Homo sapiens: one gene and its partners. The protein of the gene in region 2 interacts with the protein of the main gene of each other region in a biochemical or structural test. Each region holds a gene or a part of one and is shown on either strand. Other genes may lie near its edges. The genes, in order: RXFP4, RLN3 and RXFP1.

The links.
Region 1: the proteins of RLN3 (region 2) and RXFP4 form a complex in vitro, tested with the Homo sapiens proteins (one study listed by BioGRID).
Region 3: the proteins of RLN3 (region 2) and RXFP1 interact in a test that uses a peptide from one of them, tested with the Homo sapiens proteins (one study listed by BioGRID).

Annotation. Positions count from the first base shown.
Region 1 is NC_000001.11:155,937,308-155,943,699, reverse strand, and holds RXFP4 (relaxin-3 receptor 2), read right to left. Parts: upstream 2,063-6,392; 5' UTR 1,991-2,062; coding exon 866-1,990; 3' UTR 613-865; downstream 1-612. UniProt on the Homo sapiens protein: High affinity receptor for INSL5. Also acts as a receptor for RLN3/relaxin-3, as well as bradykinin and kallidin. Binding of the ligand inhibit cAMP accumulation.
Region 2 is NC_000019.10:14,023,988-14,031,177, reverse strand, and holds the start of RLN3 (relaxin-3 preproprotein), read right to left. Parts: upstream 3,031-7,190; 5' UTR 2,974-3,030; coding exon 2,784-2,973; intron 934-2,783; coding exon of another isoform or gene 822-933; intron 469-821; coding exon 230-468; 3' UTR 1-229. UniProt on the Homo sapiens protein: May play a role in neuropeptide signaling processes. Ligand for LGR7, RXFP3 and RXFP4.
Region 3 is NC_000004.12:158,643,833-158,650,944, forward strand, and holds part of RXFP1 (relaxin receptor 1 isoform 1 precursor), read left to right. Parts: intron 1-1,076; coding exon 1,077-1,306; intron 1,307-2,470; exon of another isoform or gene 2,471-2,849; intron 2,850-2,958; coding exon 2,959-3,369; intron 3,370-4,666; coding exon 4,667-4,885; intron 4,886-7,112. UniProt on the Homo sapiens protein: Receptor for relaxins. The activity of this receptor is mediated by G proteins leading to stimulation of adenylate cyclase and an increase of cAMP.

The DNA of each region.
Region 1 (6,392 bases), on a different chromosome or scaffold from region 2:
CCAGGTGCTCTGACACTCAAATTGATACTCTGGGCTTTGCATTTGGGGCAGGGAGGACTAGCACCACTTTCTGAGGTCTCTGCTTTTCTGGCTCTACCTGCAGCCTGTTCTCCCAGCCCCCTCCCCTCTTTAATCGCTCACCTCCCTTCACCCCACCCATGTCTTTGACTTGTCATTATCTTCACTTCTTTCAAATCCTGATTTAAAGGGAGACACACAGGCACTCCCGTCAGCACCAGGGTTTTACACCCAGGGCCTGGCAGGTGCTGGAAATTCCAGCAATACCCCACACCTGGCATCCCTTCAAGGGAACTACAGCTTTTGCAGCTGAGGCCTCTGCAGGCAGCAAGTTTCAGTGGTCACCACTGAGATGGTAAGGTGAGGACAGGGGAAGCTGGCATTTTTGGCCTTGATACCGGAGAAAGACAAGGGATACCCTGTTTTGAGGTGGGGGGTGGGTACAGAGAGAGATGGGCACTGACCTCTGATTCATTAGCCTAGAACCCTTAGGGAAGTTTTCCTAGGTATTCTTGCAGAAAGCAGAAATGGAGCAACGAATCCTTTTGTTCCATACTGAACTGGAGGTGGAACTGGGATAAAAGGTCAAGACAATTTGTGGATAATCCAGAGGTTTATTCTCAGATCCTCTTCTTTCCCATCTCCAAATAAAGACTTAAGCTTTGTCACATCCAGCTCTGATCTGAGCCCCCGCCTCCCCCATTCACCACACCCAGAGTTGGGGATCAAAGATCAGACTTTTCCCTGAGGGCACTGCAGCCTGGCAGAGAGGGCAGCTTCTCCCCAGGACTCAAGGATCCTACACTTGGTGGATCTCAGAAAGAGGAGTGTGTTCAGCTTGCGCCCTTCACCCGGGTGTCCCTCTGTCCAGGTTGGTGAGCAGGGTAGAAGGGCGGCTCTCCCGGGGGTTGCTTGCGACCCACCGCCTGCCTACCTGCTTTAGGGCCACCTGTTGCACCCAGCCTCCGCCCTGGGGCCACAGCCTCAACCGCAGATCCCTGAAGGTGCCTGCCAGAGCCTGCCGGGGCTCCCGCCTCAGGAGACAGTACAGCACAGGGTTGAGGCAGCTATTGCTGTGTGCCAAGCAAGTAGTGACAGGGAAGACATACGTCTGGATAGTATAGAAAGTACTGTTCCAGGGCACCAGGTCAAACTTCACCAGGACACCCCAGAGAGTGACCACATGGTTGGGAAACCAGCAGAGGAAGAAGGAAGCCACCAGGATGCGGACAGAGCGGGCCACGACCCTGCTGTCCTGCCGCCGCCGTTGCCGCCGCTGCAGGAAGGCCAGCAGCAGCAGGTAGCTGGTGGTGATGACGCCCAAGGGCACCATGAAAGCCAGCACCACCCTCTGCAGCTGGTAGGCCCCCAGCCAGTACCTGCTGGGGAAACGCAGCAGGCAAAGGCGCACACCACACACCTCACCCTCCACCCCGAAGACAGCTGTGGGCACCGTCACCAGGGCAGCCGCCGCCCACACTGCCAGGGTGGCTATTCGGGCCCAGAAGAGTGAGAGGTGGGTGCCTGGCCCCGCAGCCATGGCCACCACCCAGTAGCGAGCAACGCTCAGCGCTGTGATGAGGAAGATGCTGGCATAGACGTTGAGGACAGTGGCCGTCAGAACCATCTTGCAGAGGGCACCTCCGAAGGGCCAGTGAAAGTCCAGTGCCGACTCGGCTGCCCAAAAGGGGAGAGTGAGTGCCAGTCCCAGGTCCGCCAGAGCCAGGTTGAAGACGAAGGTGTCTGAAGGTGGGCCAGGGGCTCTCCGGGCACAGTTACTCAGTACCCACAGCACCGCCAAATTTCCCAGCAAGCCAATGGCCCCCACAAGCCCATAGGCCAGGGCAACCATGAGCCTCAGGGCTAGGAATTTGACAGGCATCGGAGCATCATCAGCACTCAGCACACTGCCTCCGGAGGCATTGGCCCAGAAGAATGTGGGTGGAGAGGCAGAAGTATTGAGTGTGGGCATCGCAGGGCATCAGAGATTGGTGGTGCTGAGAAGAGAGGTCTGCAAGTGTCTGCCAGACTGGCAGAGGCCACTGAAGGCTCTAGGAAGGAGGCTGTAGAATTAAGTGCTTCTCTGGGGCCTCTGGTGAGCCCTGGCCCACGCCCACACCTCAGAGGGAGGGGTGTGGAAAGGACAACCCACCACCTTCCTGTTGGTCAAGATTGGTGGTAGGTGGGGCAGGGCGAGGCACAGCCTGAATGCCAGGGTATATGTGCATGCGCCCGCCTGTAAGAGGGGCTCTAAATGGCAGAGAGGGAGGGGAGAAGGGAGAGTTACCCCGCTATGGAGGGCAGCCCCAAGCCTCCACCCCAGGGAGAGAGCTGGAGGTTCCCTGTCCCAGAGATGACAGGAACCAAACTAGAGCTGCCTCTGTTCCTAACAGTGCAGAGGCCTCCCTCCTCTGCAGAAAGTGTTCCCTTGGGGCCCAAAGCAAGGGGCCTGGGAGGTGGCATAGAGGCAGGGAATCAGCATGGGTGTCCAAGAGAGGAAAGAGCGGAGGCTGCGGAGTCCCAGACCTGCTGCTCACTAGCCGTGTGACTGGGAGAGTTACTTTACTCCCCTAAGCCTGTTTTCTTGCTTAAAATTTTCAGGTAAGTCTGCTTCACAGGAGTGGCATGATGCAATGAGAGAACACATGTGAAATAGCAATTTGTATGAATATTATTTCAAAGGAGAAGTTTGGGGTGTTTGTGGCAGAAGGGTACTGAGAGGCTATTACCATGCCCAGGGAACAGTGCCAACTAAAACAGGTTGGAATTCATCTCAGCAGCAGTGACCTTGAGGCTAAGAGCAGGGAGGGAAAAGAGAGAGGAAGTCACAGCTTCCTGTTTCCTCCCCACTGGGAACACTGGGCCTATGAGGGCCTGTGTGGACCTGGGCATGCCCTCAGTTCTGTTCCTGCTCCTGATAATTAAACATTCCTGCTAACCTCTATCGCCGCCTTTCCCCCCTTTCCTGCTCTAGTCTGTGGACAGAGCTCAGCGGTCCCCCTACTCTCTCCTGCAAACCCCATGTCAGAGCTAAGGATCCTGAGATACGCCCTCACCACACCTCATCCTGTCTCCCCATGATCTCAATCATAACTGGAAAAAAAAAATGCTTCATTGGGCCCTCCCCTTTCATTGCCTACATCTCTACCTACTGCAGAAGGAGCTGAGGTGGGGACAAAGAGAAGGCAGGAGGTGGATAGGTAAAAGAGTAAGGCTTTCTCAAGGATTCCAATATATTCAGCCCCTTCTTGCCCTCTGCCAGCTAATTAAGATAACGTTCGATGTTCAGTTCCTTTGGAGTGCTGAGGGAAGAGAGGGGCCCTTTGCGACAATAAATCAGCAGTGGGCTTGTGAACACATAGGAGAAACCCAGAGGTGAGAGTGATACAGGCTGGGTGCCAACATGTTGGGGCTTTCGAACCAGGGATGAGTATAAAGGGGGTGGCAGAAGGGGAGTGCCCAGCCCAAGGTCAGGTGAGCCCCACAGGCTACCTTCTGGCCTCATGGCTGCTCCTGTGTGACTGTGTCATCACTGTCTCTCGGGGCCATGTCTACTCCTCTGCCCACCCAGAATCACCCTGCTAATCTGGCAATTAAGATAACTGCTTGGCCAGACGAGGTGGCTCATGCCTGTAATCCCAGCACTTTGGGAGGCCGAGGTGAGCGAATCACCTGAGGTCGGGAGTTCAAGACCAGCCTGACCAACATGGGGAAAGCCCGTCTCTACTAAAAATACAAAATTAGTGGCGCGTGGTGGCGAGTGCCTGTAATCACAGCTACTCGGGAGGCTGAGGCAGGAGAATCACTTGAACCCGGGAGGCAGAGATTTTGGTGAGCTGAGATCACACCACTGCACTCCAGCCTGGGCGACAGAGCGAGACTCCATCTCAAAAAAAAAAAAAAATTTTTTTTCTTTTTTTCTTTTTTTTTTGGTTGAGAAGAGGTCTCACTCTGTCACCCAGGCTGGAGTGCAGTGGCACAATCTTGGCTCAGTGCCTCGACCTCCCCAGGCTCAGGTGATCCTCCTACCTCAGCCACAGGAATGTGCTACCACACAGGCTAATTTTTGTATTTTTAGGAGAGATGGGGTATCCCTATGTTGCCCAGGATTGTCTTGAACTCCTGGGCTCAAGCAACCCTCTCACCTCACCCTCCCAAAGTGCTGGGATTACAGCCATAAGCCACCACGCCTAGCATCAAAAATATTCTTGAAATGACCTCAGGTGATCCTCCTGCCTTGGCCTCCCAAAGTGCTGGGATTACAGGCATGTCAGGAGATCGAGACCATCCTGGCTAACATGGTGAAACCCCATCTCTAAAAAAAAAAAATACAAAAATTAGCCGGGTGTGGTGGCAGGTGCCTGTAGTCCCAGCTACTCGGGAGGCTGAGGCAGGAGAATGGTATGAACCCGGGAGGTGGAGCTTGCAGTGAGCCGAGATCGTGCCACTGCACTCCAGCCTGGGCGACAGAGTGAGACTCCGTCTCAAAAAAAAAAAAAAAAAAAAATCAGCTGGTCATGGTGACACTTTGGGAGGCTGAGGCGAATGGATTGCTTGAGCCCAGTAATTCAAGACCAGTCTGGGCAACATGGCAAAACCCCATCTCTACAAAAGATAACAAAAAATTAGCCAGGCATGGTGGTTCATGCCTGTGGTTCCAGCTACTTGGTTCCAGCTACTCTACTAAAAATACAAAACAACAACAACAAAAAATTAGCTGGGCGTGGTGGCGGGCACCTGTGATGTGGGAGGATCACCTGAGACTGGGAGGTCAAAGCTGGAGTGAGCTGTGATCATGCCACCGCACTCCAGCCTGGGTGACAGAGTGAGACCCCCGTCTCAAAAAAAAAAAAAAACCCACAAAAAACAAAAAAACACTGGGTAACCTCATGGCAATCCAAGCACATGGCACAAAGTATAGCCAGGCCTCATAGGGGCTAGAAATGGGGCTATACACTCTAATTCTTTTTGAATAGCTGCTCCATTATTCTTTTTGAATAGCTGCTCCATTATTCTTTTTGATAGATTTCCCCTTGTAAGAAAGTGGAAAAATATTTCTAAAACTATTTTTAGAGGTGACATCAGAATCCCTCACAGGAAATCTCCTTGTTTGGAAAAATTATTCAATAAATGCTTGAGGTAGTACCCCTGGGGTGATGTGGTGAATACTGGAGACACTGAGAAAGCCCACCCTCCATCTTTTCTTTTTTTCCCATCACAACTCCTACTGCTGTGGGAAAGAATATTAGGCCAAAAGAGCATGACCCGGTTTGGCATTTTCCAAGGTTGGGCTGATCTAAATGAGTTTGAGGGAGATACTCTGGAGACAGGTATGGGAATGTAGCACCACCATCTGGAGAAAAGGGGACTGAATCTTAGCTAGAAAGTGCCACTGAAACACAGGGGGAGTAGCAAGGAGAGGAGACTGACAGAGAGGTTATGGGACCTAGCTCTATGGATTTTATGTGCTCTCCATGGTGTCACTGCTTTAGAGTTGGTAGTAAATGACCTAATAATACCTAAATGACCACTAGGAAAGAATAATTGATTCATATGTCAATTTTTTGACCATGCACCCAACAGAAAGGAAAAATGACCTCAGCCTAACGTATCTCACTTTAGAGAGAGTTTTTCAATTAACAGTAGAACAAAGTGCTATTGAATTGAGTTTAGAAAATCAGATTCCGTTGTATCAATAGAGAAATGTTTTATTATTTTATGTTTCTTTGCTCTGTCACCCAGGCTGGAGTGCAGTGGTGTGATCATGTCTCACTGTAGCCTCAACCTTCTCGATTCAAGTGATTCTGCCACCTCTGCCTCCTGAGTAGCTGAGACTACAGAAGTGCCACCACACTGGCTAATTTTTATTTTTTGTGGAGATGGGGTCTCACTCTGTTGCCCTGGCCTCAAGTGATCCACCAGCCTCGGAATCCCAAAGTGCTGGGATTATAGGCATGAGTCACCTCACTTGGCCATCAAAAGAGAAATGTTATTGGTGAAATTAAGACTTTTATGAGAATTATAAGGCTGGGCACGGGGCTCACACCTGGAATCCCAACACTTTGGGAGGCCGAAGCAGGAGGATCACTTGAGGTCAGAAATTCACGACCACCCTGGTCAACATGGTGAAACTCCATCTCTATTAACAATACAGAAATTAGCCAGGCATGGTGGCAGACACCTGTAATCCCAGCTACTCAGGAAGCTGAGGCAGGAGAATCACTTGAACCTGGGAGGTGAAGGTTGCAGAGAGCTGAGATAGCACCATTGCACTCGAGCCTGGGCAACAAGAGTGAAACTCCATCTCAAAAAAAAAAAAAAGAATTATAAATAAGTGAACTAAACATTTAACTTAAGAAAATAAGGGGGGCCGG
Region 2 (7,190 bases):
GGCAGGGGCACAGCTTCCTTAGGGGCCAGGGTCATGATAGGCTGGTCAAAGGGCAGGGTTGGATAGGTGGTGTCGGGAGACTGTGCCTGAGCCCACAGTGCCTCTGTGACTTGTAGATGAATGAATGAATGTGTGAGGCTCGAAAGACAGGTGCCCAGCCAGACACTAGTTGAGTGGATGGCAGGACTGGGGCATTGGTCCTGGTGCCCACGGCTGCCCAGCCCTCAAACTAGCAAAGGCTACTGATTTCACTTTTGCTACACCCCCACTTGCAGCAGCTGCTGGAAAGGCCAGCCAGGACATCTCGGCTGCCCCGAAGAACCCCAGGGGTTCCTTGCCAGCTGGGTCGCCCCCTGTAAAAGGCCTGGGGTGACTTGGTCAGGGCCAGCCACTCGCTGGACCCCATGGCCTCATCCAGCTCGCCTGCCAGACTGTCTTCATCAGCATCTGCATCCGGGAAGGTATCTCCTGCAAAAGATGAACAGAGTTAGTGATCAGGGCTCAGCTGCTGCTGCACCCACAGTCATGGCTCCTGGCCAGTCTAGCTCTGATCTTGTGACAACAGTCATAGACATAGTTCAGAGTTTTTATTCCACCCAGTCCTGGGTTCAAATTCTGGCTCTGCCAGAGTAGGTGGGATTACAGGTGTCTGCCAGCAGGCCTGGCTGATTTTTGTATTGTTATAGAGATGGGGTTCACCATGTTGTTCAGGCTGGTCGCAAACTCCTGACCTCAAGTGATGTGCCCACCTCAGCCACCCAAAGTGCTGGGATTACAGGCGTGAGCCACCGCACCCAGCCCTGTCATTTATTTCTCCTTACTCTTTATTAATTGAGGACCTGGTACATTTGGGAGCTGGGCTGACTGAGCATGAATCCAGCTTCTCTAATCGTGAGCAAGTAAATTTACTTCTTGGAGCCTCAATGTTCTTTTCTGCAAAGTGGAAAAAAATAATTACTCCAACCTTCTCAAGTTTTATAAGGAGTTAATATTCATTAAAAAAAAAAACTTAGAACAATGTCTGGAACATGATGAGCACTCAAAAATGACTATTGAGTCCGGGCACGGTGTCTCACACCTGTAATCCCAGCACTTCCAGGGGCACATGCTGGAGGATCACCAGAACCAGGAGTTCAAGAACAGCCTGGACAACACAGCACTACCCTGTCTCTACAAATAATAAAAAGTTAGACATGTTGGCACAAGCCTGTAGTCCCAGCTACTCAGGAGGCTGAGGCAGGAGAATTGCTTGAGCCCAAGAGGTTGAAGCTGCAGTGAGCTGTGATCACACCACTGCACTCCAGTCTGGGCAACAGAGCAAGACCCTGTCTCAAAAATAATAATAATAATAATAATAATAATAATAATAATTTATTGATCACTTACTTTGTGTCAAACAACGTTTTAAGTGCTTTAGCAGGTTAACTTCTTTATTCTTCTCAGTGATAACCAGTTGAGGTGGGTGCAGTTATCACCCGTATTTTCCAGAGGAGACCACTGAGGCAGGACTCAGTAAAGAATTTGCATGGCTGGGCGCGGTGGCTCATGCCTGTAATCCCAGCACTTTGGGAGGCTGAGGTGGGAGGATCACCTGAGGTCAGGAGTTGGAGACCAGCCTGGCCAACATGGTGAAACTGTCTCTACTAAAAATAAAAAGATTAGCGAGGTATGGTGGCACACATCTGTAATCCCAGCTACTTGGGAGGCTGGAGGCACGAGAATCGCTTGAACCCAGGTGATGGAGGTTACAGTGAGCCAAGATTGCACCACTGCACTCCAGCCTGGGCAACAGAATGAGATTCTGTCTCAAAAAAAAAAAAAATAGTAGCACATGAACACACAACTATTACATTGTAGAGCTACTATCTGAATCCAAGTGGTGTGTCTTCTATGTCCACGCTCATACCTATCCTCCTTCTCACCATCATGAATATCTATTTGCCAGGTCCCTGCCCCTCATGAAGCTAGGTCTTCTGTTCCCTCTGACTCTCCTGATGGATCCCAGATTGTGCCGCTGCCCTGCTGAGACTCTGCCCTAATCTGTTTTGATTTAATCATACCACTTAATCCTGCAAGATTCAGGAACTGTGTCTCCCATTTGAAGATAAAGACACTCAGAGACTCTAATCTCAGCACTTAGGGAGGCCGAGGTGGGAGGATCACTTGAGCCCAGGAGTTCGAGACCAGCCTAGGCAACATAGTGAGACCCCTGTTTCTACAAAAAAAAAATTTAAAACTAGCCAGGCATGGTGTCAGGTGCCTGTGGTCTCAACTACTCTGGAGGCGGAGGCAGGAGAATCACTTGAGCCTGGGAGGTCGAGGCTGCAATGAGCAGTGATTGGGCCACTGCATTCAAGCCTGGGCAATGGAGTGAGACCACATCTCCAAAAAAAAGACACTCAGAGACGGAAGAAAAACCAACTTGCTGGGGAGAGGTCATGCATTAGGTGACAAACCCAGCTATGTGTATACCACACCCTTCACATTACCTGCTGGAAAGGGTTGGAAAACACTTCGGTGTTGTCTTTGCAAATGGCACGCTCCCCGCCCCCACCTGTCCTCAGACTTCCAGCCCCCATGGATGGCTTGCAACACCCCATCCCAGCTCTGCAGCTCTGCTAACTCCTGAGCCCTTGTTTCAAGGCTGGGCAGGTGTCCCTGGCTGAATGTGGCAGGACAGGGACCCTCCTCCTCCAGCAACCTCCTCTTATCTCTGTCCTTAGCTCCTGGGACCCATCCAGCCACCTGTTCCCCTTCTACATCCACTCTCTCCCCAGCCTCACCCATAGCCTCGTGGGCCAGGATGTCTGATCGTCTCCACCGGGAGCCCCCGCAGGTGAAGATGACTGCTCGGATGAATTCTCGGCCGCAAAGCCTGACCCCGTAAGGCGCTGCCCGGGCCTCAGCTCCCGGCCACAGCTCCCCGGTCAGCACCCATACCGCCAGGAGCAGCAGCAGCATGTACCTGGCCATGCTGGACGGAGATGCTTTGAACGTGAGAGTGGGCCAGTGTCTCTGCTGCCTCTTGGCCCCCCATTTATACATCGTGGCTCCCCCACACTCTGCCTGAAGAAAGCTGAGTGCCTCCCTTATCTTCTCCAGCAGAGGGGAGACAGGCACGGCCCCCCCAACCCGACCTTTCTCATGTCCCCAGCGAAGTGATAACCTTTCGCTAGGGACAGGGTGATGTGGCCCAGCTTATTGTCAACATCATTGACAGAGAGGCGAGAAGGTCTCCAACCTGCAGAGACCAGAAACGCATAATCCCAAAAGGCGGGGTAAGGTGACACAACCAGATCCCCACAACGTTAGGGTCCTGGACCTCTTCGAAGATCATAATAGCAGTGAACGCCCAGTGCAGTATGTGCTACGAGGCCAGGCACACTACTGTAAGCATTTTATTGTTTATTTGTTTGTTTGTTTGTTTAGATGGAGTCTCGCTCTGTCACCCAGGCTAGAGGTACAGTCCCAATGGCACAATCTTGGCTCACTGCAACCTCCGCCTCCCAGATTCAAGAAATTCTCCCGCCTCAGCCTCCCAAGTAGTTGGGATTACAGGCGCCCACCACCACACCTGGCTAATTTTTGTATTTTCAGTAGAGACGGGGTTTTACCACGTTGGCCAGGCTGGTCTCGAACTCCTGGCCTCAGGTGATCCGCCTGTCTCAGCCTCCCAAAGTGCTGGGATTACAGATATGAGCCACAGCCCTCAGCTGCTCAAAGCATTTTATATCTCTGTAATGTATTTGATTCTCCCAACAACCCAGGGTAATGGTTCTCAAATGTGAGTGAGCTTCAGAATCTTTGGGTAGGCTTGTTAAAACAGAAATCAGGCCAGGCGCGGTGGCTCACGCCTGTAATCCCAGCACTTTGGGAGGCCATGGCAGGAGGATTACCTGAGGTCCGGAGTTCGAGACCAGCCTGGCCAACATGGTGAAACCCCGCCTCTACTAAAAATACAAAAAATTAGCCGGGTGTGGTGGCTCATGTCTGTAGCCCCAGCTCCTTGGGAGGCTGAGGCAGGAGAATTGCTTGAACCTGGGAGGTGGAGGTTGCAGTGAGCTGAGATGGCGCCACTGCACTTCAGCCTGGGCAACAGAGTGAGACTCTGTCTCAAAAACAAACAAACAAAACACATATCTTTGTGTCCTACCTGCAGAGCTCCTGACTCAACAGGTATGGAACATATCTAAGAATCTGCATTTCCAACCAGTTCCCAGGTGACATTGATCCTGCTGGTTCAGAAACCAGACTTTTTTTTTTTTCTTTTTTTCAGAGACAGGGTCTGGCTATGTTGCCCAGGCTGGATTGTAGTGGTGGCAACATAGCTCACTGCAGCCTTGAATTCCCGGGTTCAAATGATCCTCCCACCTCAGCCTCCTAAGTAGCTGGGACTACAGGTGTGTACCACCATGCTCAGCTAATTTTTGTATTTTTTGTAGAGATGAGACCTCACAATGTTGCCCGGGCTGGTCTCAAACTCTTGGACTCAAGGGACCCAAATGCGTCAGACTCTCGAAGTGCTGGGATTGGCTGGACACAGTGGTTCACACCTGTAATCCCAGCACTTTGGGAGGTCGAGGCGGGTGGATCACCTGAGGTCAGGAGTTTGAGACCAGCCTGGCCAACATGATGAAACCCTGTCTCTATTAAAAATATAAAAATTAGCCGGGCATGGTGGCGGGTGCCTGTAATCCCAGCTACTGAGAAGGCTGAGGCAGGAGAATCGCTTGAACCCAGGAGGCAGAGGTTGCAGTGAGCCAAGATTGTGTCATTGCACTCCAGCCTGGAGCACCACGCCCAGCCCAGAAACCACAGTTTCTTTCTTTCTTTTTTTTTTTTTTTTGAGATGGAGTCTCGCACTGTCGCCCAGGCTGGAGTGCAGTGGCATGATCTCGGCTCACTGCAAGCTCCCCACTTCCCAGGTTCACGCCATTCTCCTGCCTCAGCCTCCCGAGTAGCTGGGACTACAGGCGCCCGCCACCACGCCCGGCTAATTTTTTGTATTTTTAGTAGAGACGGGGTTTCACTGTGTTAGCCAGGATGGTCTCGATCTCCTGACCTCGTGATCCGCCCGCCTCGACCTCCCAAAGTGCTGGGATTACAGGCGTGAGACACTGCGCCCGGCGGAAACCACACTTTTAAGAGCATGGGGTTATGAATTCAGGACTAAGATAATTCTCATATTACAAATGAGGAAACGGAGACACAGAAGGGTGTCCTGAGGCAGCAGATCCTAACGTTTTTGACGCCAGAAACCGGTTTCGTGGAAGACAATTTTTCCATGGATGGAGTGTCAAGTGGATGGTTTCGGGATGATTCAAGCGTATCACTTTTTTTTTTTTTTTTTTTTTTTTTGAGATGGAGTCTTGCTGTGTCACCAGGCTGGAGTGCAATGGCGCAATCTTGGCTCACTGCAACTTCTGCCTCCCAGGTTCAAGCGATTCTCCTGCCTCAGCTTCCGAGTAGCTGGGACTACAGGCATATGCCACCACGCCCAGCTAATTTTTGTATTTTTAGTAGAGACGAGGTTTCACCATGTTGTCCAGGTTGGTCCCGATCTCTTGACCTCATGATCCGTCCACCTCGGCCTCCCAAAGTGCTGGGACTACAGGCATGAGCCACCGCGCCTGGCCAAGCGCATCACATTTATTGTGCACTTTATTTCTATTATTATTATACTGTAGTTGTATATTGAAATAATCATACAACTCACCATAATGTAAAATTAGTGGCAGTGGCCAGGCACAGTGGCTCATGCCTGTAATCCTAGAACTTTGGGCAGCTGAGGCGGGCGAGTCACTTGAGGTCAGGAGTTCGAGACCAGCCTGGCCGACATGGTCAAACCCCATCTCTACTAATAGTACAAAAATTAGCTGGGCATGGTGGCACATGCCTGTAATCCCAGTTACTCAGGAGTCTGAGGCAGGAGACTCACTTGAACCCAGGAGGCAGAGTCTGCAGTGAGCCGAGATTGAGCCACTGTGCATCAGCGTGGGCGACAGAGTGAGACTTTGTCACAAAAAATAATCATCATCATCATAATAAAATAAAAATATATATATTGAGAGGCTGGGAATGATGGCTCACGCCTGTAATTCCGGAACTTTGGGCAGCCAAGGCAGGAGGATTGCTTGAACCCAAGAGTTCCAGACCAGCCTGGGCAACAGGTGAAACCCCACCTCTACAAATAATGTAAAAATTAGCCAGGTGTGGTGGCACACATCTGTGATCCCAGCTACTCAGGAGGCTGAGGTGGGAAGATCACTTTTGCCTAAGCGTTCAAGGCTGCCATGAGCTGAGATTGCATCACTGCACTCCAGCCTGTACAACGGAGCCAAACCTTGTCTAAAAAAAAAAAAAATTGAGGCCGGGCATGGTGGCTCATGCCTGTAATCCCAGCACTTTGGGAGGCTGAGGAGGACGGATCACTTGAGGTCAAGAGTTTGAGACCAGCCTGGCCAACACGGTGAAACCCGTCTCTACTAAAAATACAAAAATTTGCTGGGCATGGTGGCAGATGCCTGTAATCCCAGCTACTCAGGAGGCTGAGGCAGGAGAATCTCTTGAACCTGGGAGTCGGAGGATGCAGTGAGCGGAGATCACGCCATTGCACTCCAGCCTGGGCAACAAGAGCGAAACTCTGTCTCAAAAAAAAAAAAAAAAAGAGAGAGATAACATCCATATAAAATAAAACTAACCAGGCCAGGTACGGTGGCTCACGTCTGTAATCCCAGCACTTTGGGAGGCCAAGGCGGGCAGATCACTTGAGTTCAGGAGTTTGAGACCAGCCTGTCCACCGTAGTGTAAAACCCAGTCTCTAACAAAAATACAAAAATTAGCCAGGTGGGAAACAGGTGGTTTACAAATGTAAACCACTGCGGCCAGTCTTTCTTTTTTAAAGAGATGAGGCCTAACTATGTTGCCCAGGCTGATCTGGAACTCCTGAGCTCAAGTGATCCTCCCCCTTTGGCCTCCCAAAGTGCTAGGACTACAGGCATGAGCCACCAGGCACAGCTATGTTAATGTCAATTTCACCTCGACTTTAAAACACAGCAAAAACAAGGGCTCTGGTAAGGGGGGCAAGCTTGGCTTCAAATTCCACCTCTGCCTCTTTCCTGCTGTGTGACCTTGGCCAAGTCACTTAAACTCTCTGTGCCTTGGTTTCCTCACTTGCAAAATGGGAAAGA
Region 3 (7,112 bases), on a different chromosome or scaffold from region 2:
TGCCTATACTAATTTACATTCCCGCCAATAACAGTTCCCTTTTCTCCAGATTCTCATCAGCATTTGTTACTTTTTGGTCTTTTTGATAATAGCCATCCATCCAACGTTGGAGTAAGATGATACCTCATTGTGGTTTTAATTTGCATTTCCTTGATCATTAGTGAGGTTGAACATTTTTTCAAGCATAGGTTGGCCATTTCTATGTCTTCTTTTTTTTTTTTTTTTTTTTGGAGACAGAGTCTCGCTCTGTCGCCCCCAGGCTGGAGTGCAGTGGCACGATCTGGGCTCACTGCAAGCTCCGCCTCCCAGGTTCACGCCATTCTCCTGCCTCAGCCTCCCGAGTAGCTGGGACTACAGGAGCCCGCCACCACGCCTGGCTAATTTTTTGTATTTTTAGTAGAGATGGGGTTTTACCATATTAGCCAAGATGGTCTCAATATCCTGACCTCGTGATCCACCCACCTCGGCCTCCCAAAGTGCTGGGATTACAGGTGTGAGCCACCGCGCCCAGCCTTGTATGTCTTCTTTTGAGAAATATCTGTTCAGATCATTTGCCTACTTTTTAATGGGATGTTTTCTTTTCTTTTTTTCTTTTCTTTTTTTTTCTTTCATTGGTGTTGAAATAACATCATAACTTCAATAACAAAAAGCCACGGAAGCACAGAAAAGAAAACACTTAACTCTTCCCCTGAGGGATAGAAAGCAGTCACTTGCAGCACAATAGGAGCTGTGTAACTGCATTTACGTATACTAACCATTGCGAGTACGATAACGGTTTCTCTGGAGGGATTCATTCTCTTGATCACATCTAACAGTTTGTATTCTAAGACATGTCTAACACTTGTTATGTTTATTATGCCTATTTGCTACTCTCACCCACACATTCTTTAACAATGAAATCAAGCTAATGATAATTGGATGTAAGTTTAAAGTTTCAGAATCCCTAATGTTTTAGTCCTCTCAATTTCATCTTAAGACATTTTCTTTCTACCGATAAAATGTAGGAAATAAATATGAATGTATGGTGACACTGAATTAAATGGAAAATCTTATTTTACTTTCTCTTTGTACACCAGATATTTTAAGAAATTCCAGTACTGTGGGTATGCACCACATGTTCGCAGCTGTAAACCAAACACTGATGGAATTTCATCTCTAGAGAATCTCTTGGCAAGCATTATTCAGAGAGTATTTGTCTGGGTTGTATCTGCAGTTACCTGCTTTGGAAACATTTTTGTCATTTGCATGCGACCTTATATCAGGTCTGAGAACAAGCTGTATGCCATGTCAATCATTTCTCTCTGCTGTGAGTATTTCCTGGTTAAAGGAGAATTGTAGTTTTGAAATATACAAAAGCTTTATTATTAGAAAATAAGTTGTGTGAGTGGTAGAATTATGGAATTTTACATTTTTCTCCTTTTTGCTTGTATGCTGTTTTCACATTTTCTACAAAGAAAATAGAATTACTTTAGCAATAAAAAAATATGTTTTTTAAACTAGGAAATTTAATCACCTTATGCAAATTAAGGAAGCTTTCATTTATTAGTTCTCTCTCATACAGTGGCTCCGAAGGCACAATATTTTGTTGACGCATCTAAAATCTTTTACTACAAATAAAATTGCAACCTCCTATGGTCACAATTTTACATGCAGACCTATACTTACTTTTTTATGTGTATGTCCAGTTCACAGATATTGACTTAACAACTACATGTTTTCCTGATCTCTGAGCTACTAGAAGTTTTTTCCACTCTAACTGAAATGTGTAAATAAGAAAATATTTTTAGGGAGTATTCATTTTTTCAAAAAGTGTGCGCAATGTAATGGCAAGGTGTTATGTTAAATGAACACTGCAAAGAAAAATAAGGAAGAAACCAGTCCTCAGGATGTTTGTAGTCTAGGTCAAGTGTTCTAGAATTTATCCATGCTCCCTCAAGCAAGTAAAGCATCAATCTACATGAGGTTCTACTTTTGTATGTGTGCTGCCCCCATGTGCTGTCCCCATCCTTATTCAAAGTCTAATGTCTAAATGTTTTTTTTTTATTGCAAGCTATGTAAGAAACAGAACTCAGAAGCCATTTACTATTTTGTATTGCTAGCTACAAAATTTTTAGTAAGTTCAATTTCCGTGGTGAAGCCTAGACTGTAACTTCAGAGTTAAAGGCTTAGGGTCAGCCTTGTGATTTATACAGTGATGTGATTTTAGGGATTTTGTGTAGAATGCTTGTGCGATCCAAAAATCTCACCCACTTTCTGATATGTAACGTTTGCTTAAAAAGAAATATGCCAAGTAGTGTAAGAGAGCTAATTCCTGGGATCGGAGACCCTAAAAAGAGACAGAAAAAGATGTAAAAATTGAAAGAGAGAGAAAACAGTTTTGCTTAGACCAACTCTGGTAAGTAATTTAAGCCCCTTAAAATTGTACTGACTGCAAAGCAGTTCATAATTATACATATCTCTTAAATTATAGGCTTCAGAATTCAGTCATTATTCTATCATAGGAACTTGTGAATTACTTTCTCCAAGATTTTATATGACACCTTGAGCTTGTTGCGTTGGGAGAATTTCAGTGGAAGAGCAGAACCAAGTAATGCCATCCTCATCTGAGTCCCTAACTGAATGCTCTACGTGATTGCATTTTGTTCATTTATTCGACACTTCTATGTGATGGGTCTAGAACAATAGACAAGATCTGTGCTGTTAGAGACTTGCACTTTAAAGGAAAATGAAGAAATGATTGCATAATTAACTGTAGAGAGTAACTTTGAGAGTGGTTACCAAAGAGAGTCTATGAATAGATCCTCATCTGTAAATGAATTATTAGGAGAATAAAAATTACCTCTTCCTAAGTTGGAAGAAACTTGACTATTTTTTCTAGCATTAAAAATATTATTGCTTATTGATGATTTTATGATACCTATTTATTTCTCTAAATTTGTGAAACTATGACTCCTCTAGGTGCCGACTGCTTAATGGGAATATATTTATTCGTGATCGGAGGCTTTGACCTAAAGTTTCGTGGAGAATACAATAAGCATGCGCAGCTGTGGATGGAGAGTACTCATTGTCAGCTTGTAGGATCTTTGGCCATTCTGTCCACAGAAGTATCAGTTTTACTGTTAACATTTCTGACATTGGAAAAATACATCTGCATTGTCTATCCTTTTAGATGTGTGAGACCTGGAAAATGCAGAACAATTACAGTTCTGATTCTCATTTGGATTACTGGTTTTATAGTGGCTTTCATTCCATTGAGCAATAAGGAATTTTTCAAAAACTACTATGGCACCAATGGAGTATGCTTCCCTCTTCATTCAGAAGATACAGAAAGTATTGGAGCCCAGATTTATTCAGTGGCAATTTTTCTTGGTAAGAAACTAAGAAACTAATGTTCACAAATTTTTATTTCAAATCTTCCAACCAGTTTTTGTTAGTAAGAATGAGGGTGAATTCTATCAGAATCCCCAGCAAGGATTTTCCTCCCCAAATTATACTCTGATATAAATTCCAACCTGACACAGCTTAATAAAAGACACTAAACACCTGTATTTCATGTATTCACCCTAAACATGCTAAGCAACATATGTTTTGGCTCTTTGTTTTACAATATGAACATAATGATATTTATTATCTTTTCAAATTCATGGCAACACACATCTTTGGCTTGTGAGTATATATACAACTGTTCTAAATCAGCAATGTAAAAATATTTTCAGAGTACAGCAAAAAGTAACTGAATTAGAAAAAAATCACTAGGCCAGGCACAATGGCTTGTGCTATAATCTCAGTACTTTGGGAGGCCAAGGTGGGAGGATCACTTGAGGCCAGGAGTTGAGACCAGCCTGGGCAACATAGCAAGACCCCATCTCTACAAAATTATTTTTAAAAAATTAGCTGGTGTGAGGCCAGGCACGGTGGCTCATACCTGTAATCCCAGCACTTTGGGAGGCCGAGGCGGGCCAATCATAAGGTCAGGAGTTCAAGACCAGCCTGACCAATATGGTAAAACCCCATCTCTACTAAAAATAGAAAAATTAGCCGGGCATGGTGGCACGCACCTGTAGTCCCAGCTACTCGGGAGGCTGAGGCAGGAGAATTGCTTGAACGCAGAAGGCAGAGTTGCAGTGAGGCAAGATAGTGCCACTGCACTCCAGCCCGAGCAACACAGCGAGACTCCATCTCAAAAAAAAAAAAATTAGCTGGTGTGATGGCATGCACCTGTACTCCCAGCTACTTGGAAGGCTGAGGCAGGAGGATTGCTTGAGCCCAGGAGTTTGAGGCTGCAGTGAGCTATGATTGTACCACTGCACTTCAGTCAGTGACAGAGCAAGAACCCATCTCTAAAAAAATTAAAAATAAAACATCACTAATACTAGAAAGCTTAAAAACCCAAGATATTCATTGAATTACTGTAATTTCAATATCTCATTTTAAAAGTAAACATTTTATCATTCTTCACTACTTCCACAAAACCTCATCTCAAAAAAATTCATGATTTTTGTGGACTTTAGTAATTCTTTGTGAAGAAAAAACCCACACATTATAGTCTTTGTATCTTTAGTAATAACATCTTTGTATCTTTAATAATAAAAATGTTTTATTTATGTTTGTTCATTTTGAAAGAAATATTTCTATGCATTAATAATACTGTTTGTATTCCAAATAGGTATTAATTTGGCCGCATTTATCATCATAGTTTTTTCCTATGGAAGCATGTTTTATAGTGTTCATCAAAGTGCCATAACAGCAACTGAAATACGGAATCAAGTTAAAAAAGAGATGATCCTTGCCAAACGTTTTTTCTTTATAGTATTTACTGATGCATTATGCTGGATACCCATTTTTGTAGTGAAATTTCTTTCACTGCTTCAGGTAGAAATACCAGGTACAATATTTTTTAATCTCCTTAAAGAAATAATAAATCTGTTTTTACAGTGTTCTTTTAAGGAAAACAATTAAAATTCTTAACACTAAACAATTCAAAGAATTGTACATCAGATCCGAGCACAGTGGCTCATGCCTATAATCCCAGCACTCTGGGAGGCCAAGACGGGCAGCTCACTTGAGGTCAGGAGTTTGAGACCAGCCTGGCCAACATGGGGAAACCCCATCTCTGCTAAAAATACAAAAACTAGCTGGGCATGGTGGTGCACCGCTGCAGTCCCAACTACTCAGGAGGCTAAGGCATGAGAATTGCTTGAACTCAGGAGGCAGAGGTGGCAGTGAGCCGAAATTGCACCACTACACTCCAGCCTGGGTGACAGAGCCAAAAAAAAAAAATTGTAAAAATTGTAAGTCAGAGTTGTAGGTACTTTTGGCTCTGCTCATCAATATAACATTTACTGGGGAAGAACTGTTTATTTTTTTCCATAAATGCCTAACAATACAATTACTATGGAACAAAGAAGCAATGAGTGACCAAAATAAATTCCACACGGTGTTGAAATTCTAATCATCACATGCTTAAGGTGACTAGAAAGGAAAACAGGCCAAAACAATTCTTAAATAATTACTGCATTTTTTTTCAAAATGTAAGAAAATTTTCTTCCTGTAATACATGCAATTTAGAGAAGATCATGCCAGAGTGTGAGAGATAATAGAAGCAAACATTCTTGGCATTTAGAAAGAACGTTGGCTGGCATGTTGCCTCACGCCTGTAATCTGGCACTTTGGGAGGCCAATGTGGGAGGATCACTTGGGCCCAGGAGTTCAAAGCTGCAGTGAGCCATGATTGCACCACTGCACTCCCGTCTGGGTGACAGAGCAAGATCCTGTCTCAAAAAAATAAAAATAAAAAATAAAAAATAAACAATGTGCATTACATCCATTAGGATGACTACTATTTTAAAAAAACACACATACAAAAAAATAAGTGTTGGTAAAGTTGTGGAGAAATTAGAATCCTTGTGAATTGCTGGTAGAAAAATAAAATGGTACAGCTGCTATGGAAGACAATATGGCAGTCCCTCAAAAATTTAAACCATCCAATGGTTTAGTTACCATCCAATGTGGAAATGGTCCAGTTACCATCCAATGTGGAAATTCTCCTTCTAAGGAAAAAACCAAAACAATTGAAAGCAGGGACTCAAAGAGATATTTGTACACCCATGTTCATTGCAGCATTATTCACAATAGCCAAAAGTTAGAAGCAATACAAATGTCCATAGATTGGTAAATGGATAAACAAAATGTGGTACATACGCACAATGGATTAGTATTTAGTCTTGTAAAGGAAGGAGATTTTGACAAATGCTGCAATATAGATGAACCTTGAAGATACTGTGCTAAGTGAAATAAGTTAGACACAAAAGGACAAATATTTTATTTCACTTACATGACGTTTCTGATATAGTTAGATTCATAGAACATAGAACGGTGTTTTCTAGGGGTTGGGGGAAGGGAGAATGGAGAGTGTTTAATAGGCATAGAGTTTCAGTTTGGGAGATGAAATCATTCTGGAGATGGATGGTGGTTATGGTACAATGATATGAACGTACTTAATGCCACTGAGCTGTCCACTTAAAATGGTTACATGGTAAATTTTATGTTATGCATATTTTACCACAATGAAAATGCATATATCCTGTTAAATATATATAAATATATATATATATATATAATGCAGTTTGTATTCACATTTTAAAATTTTCATGTAGCAGGGCGCAGTGGCTCACACCTGAAATCCCAGCACTTTGGGAGGCTGAGGTGGGCAGATCACTTGAGGTCAGGAGTTGGAGACCAGCCTGGCCAACATGGTGAAACCCCATCTCTACTCAAAATACAAAAATTTAGCTGCGCCTGGTGGCATGCACTTGTAGTCCCAGCTACTTGGGAGGCTGAGGCATGAGAATGCTTGAACTTGGGAGGCAGAGACTTCAGTGAGCGGAGATTGTGCCATTGCACTACAACCTGGGTGATAGAGCAAGACTCTATCTCAGGAAAAAAAAACAATTGTATATATTAATACATAATTTTAATTGTGTTCTGTACTATGGATGATGGTGATAGTATCTTACATTTTATGAACAACAAAAAGAAGGCCAAGTGGTGAAGACTGATTGAACCCAGGAGATTGAAACCAACCTGGACAACACAGGGAGACCCTGAGACCC